Homo sapiens: one gene and its partner. The protein of the gene in region 1 purifies or fractionates together with the protein of each later gene. This does not show direct contact. Each region holds a gene or a part of one and is shown in the gene's direction. Other genes may lie near its edges. The genes, in order: SEMA6A and EVL.

Region 1 (3,819 bases):
TCTCTGTGGCTGCATTATTTTAATTGAAAATTATAAATAGTAAACCTATTCTTCCTAACTTATAGGATTACTGGGAAAATAATACGAAATCATGAATGTGAATGTATTTAGTGAAATATTACACGCATTGTGGAAATTTGGGAAGTTTGATGTTAACCCCCTCTTTCCCACTCTGGACCCTGGATATAACAGAGATCCTACTTCATCTTCTAAATTATTTTTGGTAGAATATACACTGTTCATGTAGTTTTAATGTAAATCACATTATGCAACTAAATAATATGTTCAAATTCATTGAAATTGTACAGTTCACCTAGAGCATGGATAGCAACTTTATTAATTAGAACACCTACCATGTCAAGGAAACATTGCTTTCAACATTATCATTAAATCAGGCAAGGTCATAGGAGTACCATTCTGCCAGGAATTAGTTTAAAAGTAAGATAATTGTTTTTGCTCAGTTAAATTCTGAAATAGTTCAAATCAGTGTAACGATTAATATGTCAGGGTGAACCAGGACTAGTAGAAGTTTCCATCTTTGTCATAACAAGGCCGAATTCGTTAGATCTTGTGGCGTGAGGTTAATAAATGTGAAGGGACCGTTGGAGGGAAGGTAGTGGACAACTCTAGAGGCATTGCGGAGGTCATGCTTTTTTGACAGACAATGCACGTGGATTTGTTTTGCCATTTACCAACAGTGTGACTTTATGCCAGTTTCCTTTCTCCTTCAGTTTTCATTTGCAAAGTGCTAGTATGATGATAATGTTATGGTTTTGAGAAGAATAAATGTGCTAACATCTGTAAAATGCATGTCACAATGCCGGGCACACAACAAGCAGTCATTCAACATAAGGTATTATTTTTACTTGAGTAACAGTAGTTACGAAAAATGTCCTAGGAATGGATTTTGAAAAAGCAGATAGTACTTTTATTCTGGGGGGCAGGGGAAATAGTAGAAAAGGAAATGGCTACGAATCTGTAATATAAAGAGATGATGCAAAAGAAAACAACCTTTGGACTAGAAACAAACATTCATACCATAAACAGGCCATAATGTCATGGGTTTTAAGTTGAGAAGCATGTGAATACATCACTTGCAGGGAAACAGGAAACAGGGAAACTTTGGAATTTGAAATATCACACCCAAAACATGGAAGGAAAAAACCACTATATATAAAAAATAATAATAATAACAAGCAGAGCCTTATATCAAATAGGAGCCCAAGGGATAGTTTTTGAAAAATGATAGCTATCACTTATTAACATTTTAATAATAAAATGTACACTCTGCACCTACATTTAGAATCTGAAAGCAACTCATAATGACAATTTTAGGGATGAGTTGAATTCCCAAGGACCACACCTGTCTTAGGAGAGAAACTCGGCTGCTGATTGGAACCCTTGAGGAGGTTGTGGCTAGGACTTCTGCAAGAGGGTCTTCAGGTTGGGCATGCATCTGCCAGGTCACTCTTCCCTGGCCAAGCTTGAAATCAATTTGGGAGCAAAAGCAAACTACTGCCTTCCACACCAAAGGTAGGAAATAATTGGCTGACCCCAGTAGAGATAGCAGTTATTCTGCTGACAGACACACTACTACAAAACCTGAAATTTGATTCAAATGATAGTCATACAAGTTCTTATCAGTGAGAAAAATCTGACTTCTAAAAGGCACAGCAGAAGGGGAAATAAATTGATGTTATCACCACAATTCCCTGCTACCATTATGTTTTCCAGGAATGCCTCCATGGCTTAGAGTTACAGTTATTTTCAACTAGGAAATAAAATGTTCTCAAACTCTGTAAGTGGAAACAGAATGGAAAGAGTGTGAGATAAATCAGTAATTAACATGCTGCAAGGACCGAAGTTTCAGATCCTTCTTAGCAGCCAGTATGGTGACTTTTGCTTAGAAAGCATTGTTAGTAATAGATACTTCCTCATGCAGCCTTTAGACTTGAAGCTTTCTTTTAATATTCCTAGGTGCTTTCTAGGAATTTCCAACTAACCTATAATTGTCATCTGTAGAACATTAAATTCAAAGAATCCATGCCAATTAAAAAAATTTAGCAGAAGAAGCTCTAAAGTTGGTGCTGTTTACGCCTTTCTTAGCCCTTCTGCCCCTCTACGCTTCAAAGACCAGCCTTTGGCCATGATTTGATTAGAAGCATTTATAGAACAGAACAGGATCTGGCATTAAATACAATGAAAACATGCCATTGGAAAATAAACATTGTTAGAGACTACGAAGAAATAAAGATTGTATTAATTATGTTTTAATGTTCTATGAGGGTTTTACAGACAAGCTGTGATAGATCCATTCTTCTTTCCCTGTTCCTATTCCTGATTCGTTTTTTAAAGAAAAGTATTCAGTCTTTTCATTAATATTGCAGCGACTTCAGCACTTCCCCGCCCCTCCCCCAGACTCCTACTGTCCTTGAATGAGGAAACTGAGAGAATACTGATTGAGCTGGTGAATGGAAACGTTCCTTTCCTGAAAATGGAATGCTTTACAAAAAATTGCATTCCACAAAAAAACACTCAAAACAATTCAACAACTGTCCCTCCTCCTTTCTACCCAGAGAGCCACTTGATTTCATTCACATATTTTGGTTTTTCAATGTATTTGTTCTTAGGCCTAAAATACCCAGGTGGAAAACCATTCTATTAAGCCTTTCACTATTTTAAAAACATGAGCATCTGAGTTTCTAAGAACATTCTCATTCCTGCATAGTGAGCGATAAATAGAAACCAAATTGTTTGTAGCATTCTAAACTCAAGTATATTGGCAGAATGGCAGTGGAGTTGATTTTTATAAGAATACTTGTTAATGGTTTTCGAGACGGATTCTGTGCTAATTCTTCTTGTATCATGAATGATGGCCCTAGCTAGACACTGTCGCTGGGATCTTCATCTGTTAATCATGGAGGCTGCTTTCTTATTCGGTTGCCATAGTTTCAGTGCCTCACATAGTGTTGGGGTGTCTTGGGAAAGGTTTGAGATATACTAGGGCTTGCAAGCCTTGCAGTTATTTTGACAGTTGTGCTCTGAAAGACTGAAAACCGCTTCTCGTATAATTCAGTGTTGGATTAAAAGAGGCAACTTCTGAGAGTGTCTCCCTGGACCTTGTTATGTGCACATCCAGCTGGTATTTAATCCAGGATTTGCCTCTTGCTCAGTCTTGCTGGCAAAAAAAATAAATAAATAAAAATACAGTACAGAGGCTGATGTCACTTTCATATTTCAACAAGAAAGCAAAGGGACGCAAACTCTTCATTAAGACTATTCACAAATGTGGAGGTAAATGAGGCCATTCATGACTTTGCTTAAAATTTCTGCTCCATAATTTGGCTTTGGCTTTGCAGATTACTAAATAAATAAAATGACATCATGATTGCTGTGTGCCGTGTGTTATTTTGGCAATGGAAACATGTAGAGCTTTACTTCAGGTTTAACCTTTCCTTTTTTACACTTGACACTCATTGCTAAGGAGCTAGAGACCATTTTACTGTATTTTGCAACAAAAGGCTCATACATTTTGGACTGTAGGTCTACTGCTTTGTCAACTCGTGAATAGTATATGAACATTTTTCAATTATTTAATAATTTCAATATTTTGCTATTTTTTTTTAGGTTTGTGACTTTAGAGTTGATTAGAGAATGTTCTCCAGTGGTGTATATATTGTGTGACTTGGTCAAGAAAGGATTTGGGGAGTAAATTGCTGTAAGAGGGTGATACACATACACACATTCTGGCGATTTATGTGCTTCACGTGTGATGCAGAACACAGCTTGCTTCTGGTTGGCAAATTTGGCCTTGTGCAA
Region 2 (3,819 bases), on another chromosome or scaffold:
ATAGAAATAGTTTTGGAAAAGAAAATATGAATGCTTTCCCTAAGTCCTAGACCAAGCTGAGGGGAAGCACCTTTCTGTCTGAGAACAGGAAAAGGCCAGTATTGCCAGGAGCCAGTGAGATGCCAGATGCCGGTGGGAGAGTCAAGGCCCTCCCAAGAACAAACATGCTTTGCATAGCTCAGCAGGGATCAATCAGGTGCTCTCTGAAATCCACCTCAGTGATGGCTACTGGGTGGAGCCGACGATGAAAGTGCCCTTGCCAGGTTTCTTTTCATGTAGGTTGTCTCCCGCCTCTGAGGGCATGCAGTTGAGTCTCCCAACAGTGGAGGGCAGGAGGGAAATGAACGTGGACAGAAAGCTCCTGTTCAGCAGCACTTTCACAGACACTCATCCCGCCTACACTCCCCGTGAGCAGGTGGCTTGGTCAGCGTTCTGTTTCTAGGAGATGGGACACTGGCTGCTGGGGGGTAGCTGGTGAGGTGTAAGTGATCGTGGCTAGGCCAGTTAGGAGACTCTGACAGTCCAGGAAGAGATGATAGGGGCATGCAGGAAGGTGTTGAAGGTGAAGACAAAAAAGACAGGCAGGTACCCAGATTTAGAGAACTGACCAGGCTGACAGTTATAAGAAGCTGGTGTCAGGGATGATTCCCTGGTTTCTGGGCTGAGGGACGAGGTGGGCAGACCTGTCCTGAGATGGGAGCTAAAGAAGGGGGCCCCTGCTGTAGCTGAGGAGGCTGCCAGGTAGGCCCATCACAGACAGGTGACAGCCTGGCCACGGCCCATTATCACACCTCAGACCAGCTCCATGCTTGATGGGCAGCTCATCTCAAGTTGAAAAGCCACAGAAGCGTATCTCTGGGAAACACTGAGGGTCTGCCTGCCTCTGTAGACCTGGGAGGTCAGCAGATACCACTGAGGCCAAAAAATATGGGTGAGGTTTTAGAGTACATGAAACGGGGATTCATACTGGGGAGGTGCACGAACCGACTCAAGGGCGTCACGTGGACCTATTCCAGGGCTCCTCTTCTGAGCATTTCCAGGCTCTGAGTGGCATTCTAGATTGGGGAGGGCGTGGCTGGGTTAACTGAGTTCCAAGACACAAGGGCCTTAGAGTGACACAAGAAAGTGTCCAGTGTCCCGACCTGTGGGACAGACTGCAGCCCAGAGAGATGCCTCTCTGTCCCGTGTGGCCAGGCCTTCAGTGTCCTGGGGACAGAGCGTGCCCGCCTCCCCTCCACGCCTCAGATGCTACAGCTGCTGCCAGTAGAGCTAAACAGACATAGAGGCATCTCGCCCTCTCTGCCTAGACCAGTTTTGTGTCCCAGGCCATGACCACACGGAGGGCCTGGACATTTGCCTGGGCCTGGCTCCTCACCAGACGGGGCCTAGACAAGCCGCCTCCTTCACGCCATCGTTTTCCCACACAGGTTTATCTGAGGACCGGGGTGAGTCTGGCAGGGTGGAGGCAGAAGAGTTCTGGGACAGTGAGAGAACGTGAGGAGCTGATCTGTATCTTCCCCTTCTCTGTGCCTAGGAGAAAAGCAGCCTCCCAGTCAGACAAGCCAGCCGAGAAGAAGGAAGATGAAAGCCAAATGGTGAGCAAGCAGCCCGCCCCACCCTCAGGCTCCCCACTGAGATGAGCGCATCGCCAGGGAGGCTCTCTGGTCTCAGGCGAGGCCTTTGGGACATGCGTGGGATGGGCGCTTCATCAGGTGATTCACAGGAGGGGCGGAGGGTCTCTGCGGTGCTTGTCCCTGCGCCACCCTGGCCCCAGCAGCAGGCCTGCCCTCACTGAGCACCCCCTACCAGACACTGCTCCACCCTTGGAGCTGCAGCCTGAGGCGCTGGCCGCTGCACCGCAGGGCTACCTCGCCTTCCCAGGAGCCCCGGGGAGCACAGACCAGCCAGGGTCTCGGCGGGACTGGGACTCCAGGAGTACACTGCAGAGGGGCACGTCTGCCAGAAGCCCAGAGAGGTTTTTATTTTCAAATTATTTCTGTTTCTAAAGACTCCTCTTCCAGCAGGAGCTTCAGGTGAGCTGTGGCAAAGGAGCCCTGGACCCCTGGCTCTTGTCCTTACCAGGCAGCCCAGAGCCAGCCTGGCTGCCAGAGCTCCCAACATCTGCTTCCAGTTAGGGCGGCTAATTCTCTTTTCCTCCATGTTAAGCTTTTCCTATAAAAAGACTCCTACTGACAGGGCTAAGTTTAGCCTTAACTACAAATGCCTTGAAGGTTCCACCTCAGTGCAGAATCAGAGAGGAAATAAAACTGCCAGGGACCAGAGCAGGCTTCCTGCCCTGTCCTCCCATCAGTCAGGGTCATGCTGGTGTTACCCTGAGGCTATAGCCCTCCCAGCTGATCCACGCCTCTCAGCCCCGTCCTGGGCACATATGGGTCCCTTTGCCCCACCAGCCAACTCCCATTCAGCCTGCACTTCCCTGCATCACCCTTACACCTTAAAAAACAGCCTCCCGGCCGGCTCAACACTTCACACTTGTAGTCCCAGCACTTTGGGAGGCCGAGGCAGACGGATCACCTGAGGTCAGGAGTTTGAGACCAGCCTGGCCAACATAGTGAAACGTCATCTCTACTAAAAATACAAAATTAGCGGGGCATGGTGGCGCATGCCTGTAATCCCAGCTACTCGGGAGGCTGAGGCAGGAGAATTGCTTGAACCTGGGAGGCGGAGGTTGTAGTGAGCAGAGATCGCACCATTGCACTCCAGCCTGGGCAACAAGAACGAGACTCCGTCTCAAAAACAAAACAAACAACAACAACAAAAAAACAGCCTCCCGACCCCCAGGCCTCACAAAGCTCCTCACTACTTGATCCCAGCCCCGGTCTTCTCCCGAGGCCCTCTGCACAGGCACGACTGCTTGTGGAGACTCGTTGTCTCCTGCCAGATCTTAGGCCCTTGGAGGGCGAGGCCTGGGCTTCTCACACGTCCACCATTCCCATACCTTGCACATGCTGTGGAGTTTAGCCAACTGACTTGCCATGAATTTCTGAAATTGCAGGCCACGGGATAATCACAGACATCAAAATACTGTGGCCTCGCTCCAGCCACAGCCCTGGGGATCTGAAGACATCGCTGGCCTTTCTTAGTCAGGTGCCAGTATGTTGCAGTCCCAGCCCCTGAAAACTAAAACTCTCGCTCCTGGAGCTCTAAGAAGAATGGATTTCAAAGCCCAGGGGCTTCTGGAAGAGGAACATTCTTGAAACCTTCAACCCCAAGGATAGCACTCTCCTCCTCAGACCCCCATCTTTTCTGTCTTGTTTTTCACAGGCCCCTGGCTACAGCTGGTTCTTGTTTGCCATGGTCCCTTCTCATACCCAGGACTAGCGTCTAAAGAGAGCAGGGCCTTCAGAAGATCCACACACCACACAAGTGCAGTGGGAGGGAGAGAGGCTGATGGCCGGCACTCGTTTTCTTGTTCATGCTTCCTGGTATTTCCCCAATTCTCTGCAGTGAACATGCACTAAGTTTATCATTAACAGAGAAGAAAGAAGGCTTATTTGAAAGACGAAAAGAGCCCCAAATGTGGAGTCCGGTGACTTGGGCAGGCCCTCTGCCATGGCAGAGCTGGCCCTGGGCCAATGGAGTTACTGCTCCGAGGACCAGTTCCACCACCTGAAAACCTGCACCCAGGCATGGCCGCCTCACAGACTGTGCGACTGCCAGAGGTGGGGTGCAAGTCTCTGTGCCCAGGGCCTGGGAGTGCTGCGGCCACCTCTTTCCCAGCCTAGAGTCAAAGCATAACTTCCCTTTTAAGCAGGGAGGGTTTTAAAAAAATAACATACAAGAAAAGATGATAATTTT

Evidence for each region.
Region 2: the proteins of SEMA6A (region 1) and EVL purify together in Homo sapiens (affinity purification with western blotting, with the first as the bait; one study listed by BioGRID). This does not show direct contact.

The regions. Positions count from the first base shown.
Region 1 is NC_000005.10:116,564,515-116,568,333, reverse strand, and holds part of SEMA6A (semaphorin-6A isoform 2 precursor), read left to right. Parts: intron 1-3,819. UniProt on the Homo sapiens protein: Cell surface receptor for PLXNA2 that plays an important role in cell-cell signaling. Required for normal granule cell migration in the developing cerebellum.
Region 2 is NC_000014.9:100,131,185-100,135,003, forward strand, and holds part of EVL (ena/VASP-like protein), read left to right. Parts: exon of another isoform or gene 1-1,534; coding exon 1,535-1,595; intron 1,596-1,862; coding exon of another isoform or gene 1,863-1,975; intron 1,976-3,016; coding exon of another isoform or gene 3,017-3,104; exon of another isoform or gene 3,105-3,819. UniProt on the Homo sapiens protein: Ena/VASP proteins are actin-associated proteins involved in a range of processes dependent on cytoskeleton remodeling and cell polarity such as axon guidance and lamellipodial and filopodial dynamics in migrating cells.